2 linked regions of the Homo sapiens genome follow. The protein of the gene in region 1 binds, or shares a complex with, the protein of each later gene. Each region holds a gene or a part of one and is shown in the gene's direction. Other genes may lie near its edges.

Region 1 (8,392 bases):
GTGGCTCACGCCTGTAATCCCAGCTACTCAGGAGGCCGAGGTGTGCAGATCACTTGAGGCCAGGAGTTCGAGACCAGCCTGGCCAATATGGCAAAACCCCATCGCTACTAAAAATACCAAAATTAGACGCATGTGGTGGCACGCGCCTGTAATCCCAGCTACTTGTGTGGCTGAGGCAGGAGAATCTCTTAAACTCAGGAGGTGGAGGCTGCAGTCAGACAAAATTGTACCACTGCACTCCAGCCTGGGCGACAGAGTGAGACTCCATCTCAAAAAACAACAAAACAGACTGGGCTCAGTGGCTCACACCTGTAATCCCAGCACTTTGGGAGGCTGAGGTGGGCAGATCACCTGAGGTCAAGAGTTTGAGACCAGCCTGGCCAACATGGCAAAACCTCATCTCTACAAAAATACAAAAATTAGCTGGGTGTGATGGTGGGTGCCTGTAATCCCAGCTACTTGAGAGGCTGAAGCAGAAGAATCATTTGAACCCAGGAGATGGAGGTTGCAGTGAGCCAAGATCATGTCACTGCACTCCAGCCTGGGTGACAGAGTGAGACTCCATCCCAAAACAAACAAACAAACAAACAAACAAACAAACAAACACAAAACAAAAAACCCAGAATGCTGGTATAGCCAGACTGAGGCAAGTGAGGGGGACAGAGGGGTGAGGACAGAGAAGAGCAGCCACGTCGTGTTGGTTCTTATGGGTAAGGCATTTGGAGTTTATTTGGGAAGTCATGAGAGAGGTGTTTTTTTTTTTTTTTTGAGACGAGTCTTGCTCTGTCGCCCAGGCTGGAGTGCAATGGCGTGATCTCGGCTCACTGCAACCTCTGCCTCCTGGATTCAAGCGATTCTCCTGCCTCAGCCTCCCGAGTAGCTGGGATTACAGGCACCCGCCACCATGCCCAGCTAATTTTTGTATTTTTTTAAATAGAGACGGGGTTTTACCATATTGGCCAGGATGGTCTCGTACTCCTGACATTTGATCCGCCGGTCTCGGCCTCCCAAAGTGCTGGGATTATAGGCATGAGCCACCGCGCCTGGCTTAATTTTTGTATTTTTAGTAGAGACAGGTTTTGCCACGTTGGCCTGGCTGGTCTCAAACTCCTGACCTCAGGTGATCCACCTGCCTCAGCCTTCCAAAGTGCTAGGATTACAGGCGTGAGCCACCATGCCAGGCCATGAGAGAGGTTTTTTTTGTTTGTTTGTTTGAGACAGAGTCTTGCTCTGTTGTCCAGGCTGGAGTGCAGTGGCACCATCTCAGCTCACCGCAACCTCCGCCTCCCAGGTTTAAGTGATTCTCCTGCCTCAACCTTCCGAGTAGCTGGGATTACAGGCATGTGCCACCACACCCGGCTAATTTTTTTGTATTTTTTTAGTAGAGATGGGGGGTTCATCATATTGGCCAGGCTGGTCTCGAACTCCTGACCTTGTGATCTGCCCACCTTGGCCTCCCAAAGTGCTGGGATTACAGGCATGAGCCACTGCGCCCGGCCAAGAGAGTTTTAAAACAGAAGAGTGAATGGTTTATGGGTGGGCAAGAGTGAAATCCAGGGCCAGGCACGGTGGCTCACGCCTGTAATCCCAACACTTTGGGAGGCTGAGATGGGTGGATCACCTGAGGTGAAGAGTTTTAGACCAGCCTGGCCAACATGGTAAAACCCTGTCTCTACTCAAATACAAAAATTAGTTGGGGCTGGGTGCGGTGGCTGACTCCTGTAATCCCAGCACTTTGGGAGGCTGAGGCAGGTGGATCACCTGAGGTCAGGAGTTCGAGACCAGCCTGGCCAACATGATGAAACCCCATCTCTATTAAAAATACAAAAAATTAGCTGGGCGTGGTGGCGGGCGCCTGTAATCCCAGCTACTCTGGAGTCTGAGGCAGGAGAATTACTTGAACCAAGGAGATGGAGGTTGCAGTGAGCCAGGATTGCACCACTGCACTCCAGTCCAGGCAACAGTGTAAGACTCCGTCTCAAAAAAAAAAAAAAAAAAAAAAGATTGGCTATAGTTTTCTCCCACCCATCCTAATCAGGTTCTGCCTCCATCGCTTCCTGAAAGTGCTCTTGTCAAGGTCACTAATGTCCTCTTGGGTCATTCTCCTTTTTTTTTTTTTTTTTTTTTTTTGAGACAGAGTCTCGCTCTGTCACCCAGCTGGAGTGCAGTGGCGCCATCTCAGCTCACTGCAAGCTCTGCCTCCCGGGATCACGCCATTCTCCTGCCTCAGCCTCTCCCGAGTAGCTGGGACTACAGGCGCCCGCCACCACGCCTGGCTAATTTTTTGTATTTTTAGTAGAGACGGGGTTTCACCATGGTCTCGATCTCCTGACCTCGTGATCCTCCTGCCTCGGCCTCCCAAAGTGCTGGGATTACAAGCATGAGCCACCGCGCCCAGCCCCTCTTGGGTCATTCTCTAAATTCGCCTCACTGCATCTCTTAGCAGCATGAGTCACTGTCTCCACCTCCCTGCGCTGGAGCACTCAGGCACTCAGGGCTCTGCTGGGCCTTCTCCTCCTCCATCAGCACTCTTTCTTTTTTTTCTTTTTTTTGAGACGGAGTTTCAAAAAATCAGACCCACCAAGGCATGTGGCAGTTGTGTTGCTCTTTGCTCGGTACCCGCTAGAGGTCTGTTGCCATTAATTTGAAATGAGACCAGTTAGTGTGACTGTGCATCTTTCCTGGCAAGTTAAATGACTATAGTTTCTCTGTTTGTAAAATGGGGATGATTATAATAGCACCTGCCTCACAGAGTTGTGAGAATTAAAATAATCAGTAATGAATTAAAGCACTTAAGGCCGGGTGCGGTGGCTCACGCCTATAATCCCAGCACTTTGGGGGGCCGAGGCAGGTGGATCGCCTGAGGTCAGGAATTCAAGACCGACCTGGCCAACATAGTGAAACCCTGTCTTTACTAAAAATACAAAAATTAGCCGGGCTTAGTGGCGGGCGCCTGTAATCCCAGCTACTTGGGAGGTTTGAGGCAGGAGAATTGCTTGAATCCAGGAGGCGAAGGTTGCAGTGAGCTGATCGCACCACTGCACTCCAGCCTGGGCAAGAGAGCAAGACTTAGTCTCAAAAAAAAATAATAAAATTAAAAAAAAGTACTTAAAACAGCACCTAGCATATAGTAAGTGTTCGGTAAACACTAGTAGTCACTGGTATCAGTTGTGTGCAAGCCAAGAATAGGAGGATGGTATGGTTGAGGTTTACCAGGAGAGAAAGACAAGGGTATCCTGAGAGTGTCTTCAAGAGTGTGCATGCCATGGTGGACTAGAATCTACAGTGGGTAAGGAACTGGACTGTAAATAAGTTTTTGATGAAGCTGAATAAATTGTCATGGTAGAAATAGCAGAGCAGGGTCAGGCCTGGTGGCTCACGCCTGTAATCCCGACACTTTGGGAGGCCGAGGCGGGTGGATCACCTAAGGTCAGGAGTTCGAGACCAGCCTGGCCAATATGGTGAAACCCCGTCTCTACTAAAAAAGATACAAAGTTAGCCAGGCATGGTCGTGATTATGATATTAATGATTATAATATTAAAACATTTTAAAAAATATATCTTGCAATACAGATAGTCAATTTGTTTTCTTTTTTTCTTTCTTTTTTTTTTTTTTTTTTTGAGACAGAGTCTCGCTCTGTGGCCCAGGCTGGAGAGCAGTGGTGTGATCTTGCCTCACTGCAACCTCTGTTTCCCGGTTCAAGCGATTCTCCTGCCTCAGCTTCCTGAGTAGCTGGGATTACAGGCACGCACCACCGCACCCGGCTAATTTTTGTATTTTTAGTAGAGATGGGGTTTCGCCAAGTTGGCCAGGCTGGTCTCAAACTCCCGACCTCAAGTGATCCACCCATTTCCGCCTCCTAAAGTGCTGGGATTACAGGCGTGAGCCACTGCTCCTGGCCAGTCAGTTTGTTTTCAAAAGATTTTTGTGGCTGGTGTGGTGGCTCATGCCTATAATCCCAGCACTTTGGGAGACCAAGGTGGGAGGAATGCTTGAGCCCAGGAGTTTGAGACCAGCCTTGGTAACACAGCCAGATCCTGTCTCTATCAAAAAAGTTGGGCCTATGGTCCCAGCTACTTGGGAGGCTGAGGTGGGAGGATCGCTTGAGCCTGCGAGGTTGAGGCTGCCATGACCTTTGATTGCACCATTGTACTCTAGCCTGGGCGACAGAGTGAGACTCTGTCTCAAAACAAACAACCAAAACCTTTTTGTGCTTTTTTTTTTTTTTTTCCTGCTAGTGTACCAGTTCTATCGCAACCTCTCTCATTAGGTATTTTCATTTTTAGTGTCTACAAGCTTAGCATTTGAAATAGATAACTTTTTTTTTTTGAGATGGAGTCTTGCTGTGTCCCCCAGGCTGGAGTGCAGTGGCGCGATCTCAGCTCACTGCAAGCTCCGCCTCCCGGGTTCACGCCATTCTCCTGCCTCAGCCTCTCGAGTAGCTGGGACTACACGCACCCACTGCCACCACGCCAGGCTAATTTTTTGTATTTTTAGTACAGTCGGGGTTTCACCATGTTAGCCAGGATGGTCTCGATCTCCTGACCTCGTGATCCGCCCGCCTTGGCCTCTCAAAGTGCTGGGATTACAGGCGTGAGCCACTGCACCCGGCCTTAAATAGATAAAATTTGTATAGGTCAGAAAATTGGGGAAGGGTGTATTTGGGTATTTCCATATACTTGTGTGTACTGAGTCTTCTTCCCAATATAGTTTCTCGGGTTTTCTCCTTTCTTTTCCACCTTTTCACAGAACTTTCTGCAAGTCTCATTTCCAGCTCCCCAGCGTCTTTCCTGAGTACTTGCCCTGCCCCGTGGGTCTTGCAGGAAGCCTTTACTCCTCGTCTTGCCCTCTCCAGGAGACACTTTGCATCCTCTGTACCCTTTATCTCTCAGGGTGGGGACGGGGAATGTCCTCATTCCCAAATGCTGTAGCCACACAATTGCTCTTTCGTCTTTGTGAAACTTTTCCCTTGAGGCTTATGCTGATTCTCTCTCCCGCTGACGACGTTGGCACTGTACAGCCTTCCGGTGCTCTCCTGTTCGCCCGCCATTTTGGTGACCTCAGGTATCCAAGCCAAAAGCCAGGGTCTCTCTCATCCTTTAATCTTTAATCTCCCTGTTCCTAACCCCTCACATCCAATTACTTCCCAAATCCCATCAAGTCTGCCTAATCTTCCTAATCCACCCACATCTGTCCCTCCCACTGCCTCTACTTTAATTCAAGGTCCTATTATTTTGGGCCTTATGTTGCTGAAACAGTCTCCTGCCTCCTTTTGCTCATTAAAACCGTATTTGTTGACTCTGCTTATTCTGCACCACGTGTTGGGGAAGCAGTGGTGAGAGCGAGGCAGATGTGATTCCCTCCTTCTCTGATAGGTATGACGGAAGGGGAGTGAGGAGCACCAGGGGCTATAGGAAAGAGGAACAGGGGCGCCTTGCTTAGCTGGAGGGGTTAGGGAAGCGTTCCCAGAGGAAGAAGCATCTAAGAGACCTGAAGGATGACTAGGATTCAGCCAGGAGGAGTCGTTGGGGGAGATGAAGGAAGAATATTCCAGACTTGGAGCCTAGGACATGTGAAAGCCAGTGGGTTGAAAGTGTGGCGAGTTGGCACTTTATGGGACCTGAGAGTCAAAATGGCGGGACTCAGAGATTTTTTTTTTTTTTTTTTTTTTTTTTGAAATGGAGTCTTGCTCTGTCGCCCAGGCTGGAGTGCAGTGGCGCGATCTGGGTTCACTGCAAGCTCCGCCTCCCAGGTTCACGCCATTCTCCTGCCTCAGCCTCCCGAGTAGCTGGGACTACAGGCGCCCGCCACCACGCCTGGCTAATTTTTTGTGTTTTTAGTAGACACGGGGTTTCACCACGTTAGCCAGGATGGTCTCGATCTCCTGACCTTGTGATCCGCCCGCCTTGGCCTCCCAAAGTGCTGGGATTACTGGCGTGAGCCACTGCGCCCGGTCAGGACTCAGAGATTTTTATGGGAATTAGCAGATAGAGATAAGCCTTGAGAGGTGGGTCGGGGGTAGCACGTGGTAATGGAAGACTAGGAGGAGGAACTGGCAAGATTTGGTATTGGGTTGGACCAGGAGTGGAAAGGAAGTGAAGAGTGGTAGCAGTCAAGGCTGGTGCTCAGATTTCAGGATTGAGCACTGGTGTGGAGTCCAGGAGGAACAGCAGGTTTGATGGTGGTGGATGCCGGGCCTATTATGGACAAATTGAGTTTGAGGAACCTGTGGGATGATCAAGTGGCACTGTCCACCAGGCAGTTGGATATATGGGTTCAGAGTATAGAGGTGGACACTGAAGTCCTGGCTGGTTGACATCAGCCTGAGGCCCAGAAGACAACTGACGAAGGACAGTGTCCAGACTATTTATCTCTCACAAATCAGTAAGAAAAAGACGGCTGGGCATGGTGGCTCATGCCTGTAATCCCAGCACTTTGGGAAGCCGAGGCAGGTGGATCACCCGAGGTCAGGAGTTCAAGACCAGCCTGACCAACATGGCAAAATCCCGTCTCTACTAAAAATACAAAAATTAGCCGGGTGTGGTGGCAGGCGCCTGTAATCCCAGCTACTCAGGAGGCTGAGGCAGGAGAATTGCTTGAACCTGGGAGGTGGAGGTAGTAGTGAGCCGAGATCGTGCCACTGCACTCCAGCCTGGGGACAGAGGGAGACTCTGCCTCCAAAAAAAAAAAAAGAAAAGAAAAAGAAAAAAGAGAAGAAAAGAAAAAGACAACAACTGGTCAGGCATGGTGGCTCACACCTGTAATCCCCACTTTGGGAGGCCGAGGTAGGCAGATCACTTGAGGCTGGGAGTTTGAGACCAGCCTGGCCAACATGGTGAAACCCCATCTCTACTAAAAAGTATAAAAATTAGCCGGGCGTGGTGGCAAATGCCTGTGGTCCCGGCTCCTTGGGAGGCTGAGGCATGAGAGTCGCTTGAACCCAGGAGGCAGAGGTTGTAGTGAGCCAAGATCGTGCCACTGCACCCCAGCTTGGGGAACAGAGAAAGACTCTGTCTCAAAAAGAAAAAAAAAGAAAAAGAAAATGGGCAAAATTTATGAAAAGGTGTACCTAACTAAATGGCCAGTAAACATAGAGGAAATATCTAATCTCTCTTATAGTAATGATGGAAATACAAATTTATGCTGTAATGAAATACCATTTCACCACCTTCAAATTGAGAAAAATGTAAAAGTCTGGCAATACCAAGAAGATAAAGAACAATAGACACTTTTTTTTTTTTTTGGAGACAGGATCTTGTTCTGTTGCCCAGGCTGGAGTGCAGTGGTGCGAACATGGCACACTGTAGCCTCAAACTCCTGGGGTCAAGCAGTCCTCCTGCCTCACTCTCCCAAACAGGTGGGACTACAAGTATGCCAATATGCCTGACTAATTTTTTAATTTTTTGTAAAACTGGGGTCTTGCTATATTGCCCAGGCTAGAATAGAGACTCTTATACACTGCTGGTGGGAGAGGACATTGGGACAAGTGCTTTGGGAAAGAAATTGACATTATAGTATCTTACAAAGTTTGCAAAGTGCATAGCGTAGAGACCAGTAATTTTACTCTTCAGCAGAAACTGTAGAGAAACCCTTCTACATGTGTACAGAATGTTAAAGCACACTAGCCAAAAAACAGAAAAACATCAGTGATTCTAAATAGAAGAAGGGTAGATCAGTTTGAATATATTCATGAGTAGAGTACTATACACCAGTGAAAATGCATGAATTAGAGCAAAATGTGTTTCCATGGTTAAAGCTTGCTATCACAGAGGGATGTATATGATATAATACCATTACTGTTAAGTCTAGGCCGGGCATGGTGGCTCATGCTTGTAATCCCAGTGCATTGAAAGGCTGAGGTGGCTGGATTGCTTGAGGCCAGGAGTTTTAGACCAGCGTGAGCAACACAGACCCCTGTTTCTACAAAAAAATAATTTTAAAGATTAGCCGGGCAGGCTGGGCGTGGTGTCTCATGCCTGTAATCCCAGCACTTGGGAGACTGAGGTGGGTGGATCACGAGGTCAGGAGTTCAAGACCAGCCTGGCCAAGATGGTGAAACCCCGTCTCTACTAAAAATACAAAAAAATTAGCCGGGCGTGATAGCAGGCGCCTGTAATCGTAGCTACTCAGGAGGCTGAGGCAGAGAATTGCTTGAGTCTGGGAGGCAGAGGTTGCAGTGAGCCAAGATTGTGCCACTGCATTCCAGCCTGGGCGACAGAGCGAGACTCCGTCAAAAATAAATAAATAAATAAATAAATAAATAAATAAGCCAGGTATGGTGGCTTATGCTTATATTCCCAGTTACTAGGGAGGCTGAGGCCAGGGGATTGTTTGCTTGAGCCCAGGAGTTTGAGGTTTCAGTGAGATGATTGCGCCACTGTGCTCCAGCCT
Region 2 (8,392 bases), on another chromosome or scaffold:
TGGCCCTGTGGCCCTTTGCAGATGTGGTCTGTCCACGTGGCCCTGTGGCTCTTTGCAGATGCCTGTTAGCACTTGCTCGGCTCTAGGGGACAGTCGTGTCCACCGCATGAGGCTCAGAGACCTCTGGGCGAATTTCCTTGGCTCCCAGGGTGGGGGTGGAGGTGGCCTGGGCTGCTGGGACCCAGACCCTGTGCCCGGCAGCTGGGCAGCAACTCCTGGATCACATATGCCATCCGGGCCACGGTGGGCTGTGTGGGTGTGAGCCCAGCTGGACCCACAGGTGGCCCAGAGGAGACATTCTGTGTCACACACTCTGCCTAAGCCCATGTGTGTCTGCAGAGACTCGGCCCGGCCAGCCCACGATGGCCCTGCATTCCAGCCCAGCCCCGCACTTCATCACAAACACTGACCCCAAAAGGGACGGAGGGTCTTGGCCACGTGGTCCTGCCTGTCTCAGCACCCACCGGCTCACTCCCATGTGTCTCCCGTCTGCTTTCGCAGAGCTCCTCCCTGAATGAGGCCAGCAGTGGCCTCTTCGACGTCTTCCTACGCTTCATGTGCCACCACGCCGTGCGCATCAGGGGCAAGTGAGTCAGGTGGCCAGGTGCCATTGCCCTGCGGGTGGCTGGGCGGGCTGGCAGGGCTTCTGCTCACCTCTCTCCTGCCCCTTCCCCACTGCCCTTCTGCCCGGGGCCACCAGAGTCTCCTTTTCTGGCCCCCGCCCCCTCCGGCTCCTGGGCTGCAGGCTCCCGAGGCCCCGGAAACATGGCTCGGCTTGCGGCAGCCGGAGCGGAGCAGGTGCCACACGAGGCCTGGAAATGGCAAGCGGGGTGTGGAGTTGCTCCTGCGTGGAGGACGAGGGGCGGGGGGTGTGTCTGGGTCAGGTGTGCGCCGAGCGTTTGAGCCTGCAGCTTGTCAGCTCCAAGTTACTACTGACGCTGGACACCCGGCTCTCACACGCTTGTATCTCTCTCTCCCGATACAAAAGGATTTTATCCGATTCTCATTCCTGTCCCTGTCGTGTGACCCCCGCGAGGGCGCGGGCTCTTCTCTCTGTGACTAGATTTCCCATCTGGAAAGTGCGGGGTTGACCGTGTAGTTTGCTCCTCTCGGGGGGCCTGTGGTGGCCATGGGGCAGGCGGCCTGGGAGAGCTGCCGTCACACAGCCACTGGGTGAGCCACACTCACGGTGGTAGAGCCACAGTGCCTGGTGCCACATCACGTCCTCTGGATTTTAAGTAAAACCACACACCTCCCGGCAGGCATCTGCCTGCGACCCTGTGTGTGCCTGGGGAGAGTGGTAGCACGGAGGAAATTCGTGCACACTCAAGGTCATCAGCAAGGTCATCCGCAGTCAGGTGGAACGTGGAGGCCTCTCTCTGGGATCGTCTCCAGCGGATAAAGGACTGTGCACAGCTTCGGAAGCTTTTATTTAAAAATATAACTATTAATTATTGCATTATAAGTAATCACTAATGGTATCAGCAATTATAATATTTATTAAAGTATAATTAGAAATATTAAGTAGTACACACGTTCTGGAAAAACACAAATTGCACATGGCAGCAGAGTGAATTTTGGCCGAGGGACACGTGTGCACATGTGTGTAAGCGGCCCCCAGGCCCACAGAATTCGCTGACAAAGTCACCTCCCCAGAGAAGCCACCACGGGCCTCCTTCGTGGTCGTGAATTTTATTAAGATGGATCAAGTCACGTACCGTCCACGTGTGGCAGGGCTTTGGGGAATGTGAGGTGATGACTGCGTCCTCATGCCCTGACAGACAGGAGGTGACTGTGTCTGTCCTGTCCCTAGGACACGGACAGGCCCGAAGCTCTAGTCCCCATCGTGGTCCAGTTTGGCCTCTGAATAAAAACGTCTTCAAAACCTGTTGCCCCAAAAACTAAGAACAGAGAGAGTTTCCCATCCCATGTGCTCACAGGGGCGTATCTGCTTGCGTTGACTCGCTGGGCTGGCCGGACTCCTAGAGTTGGTGCGTGTGCTTCTGTGCAAAAAGTGCAGTCCTCTTGCCCATCACTGTGATATCTGCACCAGCAAGGAAAGCCTCTTTTCTTTTCTTTCTTTTTTTTTTTTTGAGACGGAACGTCACTGTTGTCTGCCTGGGCTTGAGTGCAGTGGCGCGATCTCAACTCACTGCAACCTCCGCCTCCCGGGTTCCAGCATTTCTCCTGCCTCAGCCTCCCGAGCAGCTGAGATTACAGGCACCCACCCCCTGCGCCTGGCTAATTTTTGTATTTTTAGTAGAGAGGGGTTTTTGCCATGTTGGCCAGGCTGGTCTCGAACTCCTGACCTCAGGTGATCCACCCACCTCGGCCTCCCAAAGTGCTGGGATTACAGGTGTGAGCCATCACGCCCAGCCGGAAAGCCTCTTTTTAAGGTGACCACCTATAGCGCTTCCCGAAAATAACAGGTCTTGTTTTTGCAGTAGGCTGCAAGCGTCTCTTAGCAACAGGAGTGGCGTCCTGTGGGCTCTGGGGATGGCTGAGGGTCGCGTGGCAGCCATGCCTTCTGTGTGCACCTTTAGGTTCCACGGGGCTATTCTGCTCTCACTGTTTGTCTGAAAACGCACCCTTGGCATCCTTGTTTGGAGAGTTTCTGCTTCTCGTTGGTCATGCTGAAACTAGGGGCAAGGTTGTATCCGTTGGCGCGCAGCGGCTACATGTAGGGTCATGAGTCTTTCACCGTGGACAAATTCCTTGAAAAAAAAAAAAGGAGTCCGGTTAAGCATTCATTCCGGGTCAAGTGTCTGGTTCTGTGAATAAACTCTAAGATTTAAGAAACCTTAATGAAAGAAAACCTTGATGATTCAGAGCAAGGATGTGGTCACACCTGTGGCTGGATCTGTTTCAGCCGCCCCAGTGCATGGTGAGAGTGGGGAGCAGGGATTGTTTGTTCAGAGGTCTCATCTGGTATGTTTCTGAGGTGTTTGCCGGCTGAATGGTAGACGTGTCGTTTGTGTGTATGAGGTTCTGTGTCTGTGTGTGGCTCGGTTTGAGTGTACGCATGTCCAGCACATGCCCTGCCCGTCTCTCACCTGTGTCTTCCCGCCCCAGGTCCTACGTCCAGTGCCAGGGGATCCCGCAGGGCTCCATCCTCTCCACGCTGCTCTGCAGCCTGTGCTACGGCGACATGGAGAACAAGCTGTTTGCGGGGATTCGGCGGGACGGGTGAGGCCTCCTCTTCCCCAGGGGGGCTTGGGTGGGGGTTGATTTGCTTTTGATGCATTCAGTGTTAATATTCCTGGTGCTCTGGAGACCATGACTGCTCTGTCTTGAGGAACCAGACAAGGTTGCAGCCCCTTCTTGGTATGAAGCCGCACGGGAGGGGTTGCACAGCCTGAGGACTGCGGGCTCCACGCAGGCTCTGTCCAGCGGCCATGTCCAGAGGCCTCAGGGCTCAGCAGGCGGGAGGGCCGCTGCCCTGCATGATGAGCATGTGAATTCAACACCGAGGAAGCACACCAGCTTCTGTCACGTCACCCAGGTTCCGTTAGGGTCCTTGGGGAGATGGGGCTGGTGCAGCCTGAGGCCCCACATCTCCCAGCAGGCCCTCGACAGGTGGCCTGGACTGGGCGCCTCTTCAGCCCATTGCCCATCCCACTTGCATGGGGTCTACACCCAAGGACGCACACACCTAAATATCGTGCCAACCTAATGTGGTTCAACTCAGCTGGCTTTTATTGACAGCAGTTACTTTTTTTTTTTTAATACTTTAAGTTCTAGGGTACATGTGCACGACGTGCAGGTTAGTTACATATGTATACATGTGCCATGTTGGTGTGCTGCACCCATTAACTCATCATTTACATTAGGTATATCTCCTAATGCTATCCCTCCCCACTCCCCCCATCCCATGACAGGCCCTGGTGTGTGATGTTCCCCACCCTGTGTCCAAGTGTTCTCATTGTTCAGTTCCCACCTGTGAGTGAGAACATGTGGTGTTTGGTTTTCTTTCCTTGCAATAGTTTGCTCAGAGTGATGGTTTCCAGCTTCGTCCATGTCCCTACAAAGGACATGAACTCATCCTTTTTTATGACTGCATAGTATTCCGTGGTGTATATGTGCCACATTTTCTTAATCCAGTCTATCATCGATGGACATTTGGGTTGGTTGCAAGTCTTTGCTACTGTGAATAGTGCCGCAATAAACATACGTGTGCATGTGTCTTTATAGCAGCATGATTTATAATCCTTTGGGTATATACCCAGTAATGGGATGGCTGGGTCAAATGGTATTTCTAGTTCTAGATCCTTGAGGAATCACCACACTGTCTTCCACAATGGTTGAACTAGTTTACACTCCCACCAACAGTGTAAAAGTGTTCTGGTGCTGGAGAGGATGTGGACAGCAGTTATTTTTTTATGAAAATAGTATCACTGAACAAGCAGACAGTTAGTGAAGGATGCGTCAGGAAGCCTGCAGGCCACACAGCCATTTCTCTCGAAGACTCCGGGTTTTTCCTGTGCATCTTTTGAAACTCTAGCTCCAATTATAGCATGTACAGTGGATCAAGGTTCTTCTTCATTAAGGTTCAAGTTCTAGATTGAAATAAGTTTATGTAACAGAAACAAAAATTTCTTGTACACACAACTTGCTCTGGGATTTGGAGGAAAGTGTCCTCGAGCTGGCGGCACACTGGTCAGCCCTCTGGGACAGGATACCTCTGGCCCATGGTCATGGGGCGCTGGGCTTGGGCCTGAGGGTCACACAGTGCACCATGCCCAGCTTCCTGTGGATAGGATCTGGGTCTCGGATCATGCTGAGGACCACAGCTGCCATGCTGGTAAAGGGCACCACGTGGCTCAGAGGGGGCGAGGTTCCCAGCCCCAGCTTTCTTACCGTCTTCAGTTATTTTTCCCTAAGAGTCTGAGAAGTGGGGCCGCGCCTGATGGCCTTCGTTCGTCTTCAGCTGGCACAGAATTGCACAAGCTGATGGTAAACACTGAGTACTTATAATGAATGAGGAATTGCTGTAGCAGTTAACTGTAGAGAGCTCGTCTGTTGGAAAGAAATTTAAGTTTTTCATTTAACCGCTTTGGAGAATGTTACTTTATTTATGGCTGTGTAAATTGTTTGACATTCAGTCCCTCGTAGACAGATACTACGTAAAAAGTGTAAAGTTAACCTTGCTGTGTATTTTCCCTTATTTTAGGCTGCTCCTGCGTTTGGTGGATGATTTCTTGTTGGTGACACCTCACCTCACCCACGCGAAAACCTTCCTCAGGTGAGGCCCGTGCCGTGTGTCTGTGGGGACCTCCACAGCCTGTGGGCTTTGCAGTTGAGCCCCCCGTGTCCTGCCCCTGGCACCGCAGCGTTGTCTCTGCCAAGTCCTCTCTCTCTGCCGGTGCTGGATCCGCAAGAGCAGAGGCGCTTGGCCGTGCACCCAGGCCTGGGGGCGCAGGGGCACCTTCGGGAGGGAGTGGGTACCGTGCAGGCCCTGGTCCTGCAGAGACGCACCCAGGTTACACACGTGGTGAGTGCAGGCGGTGACCTGGCTCCTGCTGCTCTTTGGAAAGTCAAGAGTGGCGGCTCCTGGGGCCCCAGTGAGACCCCCAGGAGCTGTGCACAGGGCCTGCAGGGCCGAGGCGGCAGCCTCCTCCCCAGGGTGCACCTGAGCCTGCGGAGAGCAGGAGCTGCTGAGTGAGCTGGCCCACAGCGTTCGCTGCGGTCACGTTCCTGCGTGGGGTTGTTTGGGATCGGTGGGAGAATTTGGATTTGCTGAGTGCTGCTGTCTTGAACCACGGAGATGGCTAGGAGTGGGTTTCAGAGTTGATTTTTGTGAATCAAACTAAAATCAGGCACAGGGGACCTGGCCTCAGCACAGGGGATTGTCCAATGTGGTCCCCCTCAAGGGCGCCCCACAGAGCCGGTGGGCTTGTTTTAAAGTGCGATTTGACGAGGGACGAGAAACCTTGAAAGCTGTAAAGGGAACCCTCAGAAAATGTGGCCGCCAGGGGTGGTTTCAGGTGCTTTGCTGGGCTGTGTTTGTGAAAACCCATTTGGACCCGCCCTCCAAGTCCACCCTCCAGGTCCACCCTCCAGGGCCGCCCTGGGCTGGGGGTATGCCTGGCGTTCCTTGTGCCGCAGCCCGGAGCACAGCAGGCTGTGCACATTTAAATCCACTAAGATTCACTCGGGGGGAGCCCAGGTCCCAAGCAACTGAGGGCTCAGGAGTCCTGAGGCTGCTGAGGGGACAGAGCAGACGGGGAACGCTGCTTCTGTGTGGCAAGTTCCTGAGGGTGCTGGCCAGGGAGGTGGCTCAGAGTGTATGTTGGGGTCCCACCGGGGGCAGAACTCTGTCTCTGATGAGTCGGCAGCCATGTAACAGGAAGGGGTGGCCACAGGGAGCTGGGAATGCACCAGGGGAGCTGCGCAGCTGGCCGAGGTCCCAGGGCCAGGCCACAGGAAGGGCAGGGGGACGCCCGGGGCCACAGCAGAGGCCGCAGGAAGGGAAGGGGATGCCCAGGCCAGAGCAGAGGCTACCGGGCACAGGGGGGCTCCCTGAGCTGGGTGAGCGAGGCTCATGACTCGGCGAGGGAACCTCCTTGACGTGAAGCTGACGACTGGTGTTGCCCAGCTCACAGCCCAGCCAGGTCCCGCGCCTGAGCAGGAACTCAGAACCCTCCCCTTTGTCTAAAGCACAGCAGATGCCTTCAGGGCATCTAGGAGAAAACAGGCAAAGTCGTTGAGAAACGTCTTAAAAGAAGGTGGGATGGTGGCAATTTCTTGTCCAGATTTTAGTCTGCCCCGGACCACAGATGAGTCTATAACGGGATTGTGGTGTTGCCATGGGGACACATGAGATGGACCATCACAGAGGCCACTGGGGCTGCACCTCCCATCTGAGTCCTGGCTGTCCCGGGTCCAGGCCAGGTTCTTGCATGCTCACCTACCTGTCCTGCCCGGGAGACAGGGAAAGCACCCCGAAGTCTGGAGCAGGGCTGGGTCCAGGCTCCTCAGAGCTCCTGCCAGGCCCAGCACCCTGCTCCAAATCACCACTTCTCTGGGGTTTTCCAAAGCATTTAACAAGGGTGTCAGGTTACCTCCTGGGTGACGGCCCCGCATCCTGGGGCTGACATTGCCCCTCTGCCTTAGGACCCTGGTCCGAGGTGTCCCTGAGTATGGCTGCGTGGTGAACTTGCGGAAGACAGTGGTGAACTTCCCTGTAGAAGACGAGGCCCTGGGTGGCACGGCTTTTGTTCAGATGCCGGCCCACGGCCTATTCCCCTGGTGCGGCCTGCTGCTGGATACCCGGACCCTGGAGGTGCAGAGCGACTACTCCAGGTGAGCGCACCTGGCCGGAAGTGGAGCCTGTGCCCGGCTGGGGCAGGTGCTGCTGCAGGGCCGTTGCGTCCACCTCTGCTTCCGTGTGGGGCAGGCGACTGCCAATCCCAAAGGGTCAGAGGCCACAGGGTGCCCCTCGTCCCATCTGGGGCTGAGCAGAAATGCATCTTTCTGTGGGAGTGAGGGTGCTCACAACGGGAGCAGTTTTCTGTGCTATTTTGGTAAAAGGAAATGGTGCACCAGACCTGGGTGCACTGAGGTGTCTTCAGAAAGCAGTCTGGATCCGAACCCAAGACGCCCGGGCCCTGCTGGGCGTGAGTCTCTCCAAACCCGAAACACAGGGGCCCTGCTGGGCATGAGTCCCTCTGAACCCGAGACCCTGGGGCCCTGCTGGGCGTGAGTCTCTCCGAACCCAGAGACTTCAGGGCCCTTTTGGGCGTGAGTCTCTCCGCTGTGAGCCCCACACTCCAAGGCTCATCCACAGTCTACAGGATGCCATGAGTTCATGATCACGTGTGACCCATCAGGGGACAGGGCCATGGTGTGGGGGGGGTCTCTACAAAATTCTGGGGTCTTGTTTCCCCAGAGCCCGAGAGCTCAAGGCCCCGTCTCAGGCTCAGACACAAATGAATTGAAGATGGACACAGATGCAGAAATCTGTGCTGTTTCTTTTATGAATAAAAAGTATCAACATTCCAGGCAGGGCAAGGTGGCTCACACCTATAATCCCAGCACTTTGGGAGGCCGAGGTGGGTGGATCACTTGAGGCCAGGAGTTTGAGGCCAACCTAACCAACATAGTGAAATTCCATTTCTACTTAAAAAATACAAAAATTAGCCTGGCCTGGTGGCACACGCCTGTAGTCCCCGCTATGCGGGAGGCTGAGGCAGGAGAATCATTTGAACCCAGGAGGCAGAGGTTGCAGTGAGCCGAGATCACACCACTGCACTCCAGCCTGGGCAACAGAGTGAGACTTCATCTTAAAAAAAAAAAAAAAAGTATCAGCATTCCAAAACCATAGTGGACAGGTGTTTTTTTATTCTGTCCTTCGATAATATTTACTGGTGCTGTGCTAGAGGCCGGAACTGGG

The links.
Region 2: WRAP53 (region 1) and TERT share a complex: the UniProt entries of both Homo sapiens proteins name them as parts of the telomerase holoenzyme complex.

Annotation. Positions count from the first base shown.
Region 1 is NC_000017.11:7,690,641-7,699,032, forward strand, and holds part of WRAP53 (telomerase Cajal body protein 1), read left to right. Parts: intron 1-8,392. UniProt on the Homo sapiens protein: RNA chaperone that plays a key role in telomere maintenance and RNA localization to Cajal bodies. Specifically recognizes and binds the Cajal body box (CAB box) present in both small Cajal body RNAs (scaRNAs) and telomerase RNA template component (TERC).
Region 2 is NC_000005.10:1,263,314-1,271,705, reverse strand, and holds part of TERT (telomerase reverse transcriptase), read left to right. Parts: intron 1-501; coding exon 502-587; intron 588-3,072; coding exon 3,073-3,186; intron 3,187-5,170; coding exon 5,171-5,242; intron 5,243-7,113; coding exon 7,114-7,302; intron 7,303-8,392. UniProt on the Homo sapiens protein: Telomerase is a ribonucleoprotein enzyme essential for the replication of chromosome termini in most eukaryotes. Active in progenitor and cancer cells. Inactive, or very low activity, in normal somatic cells.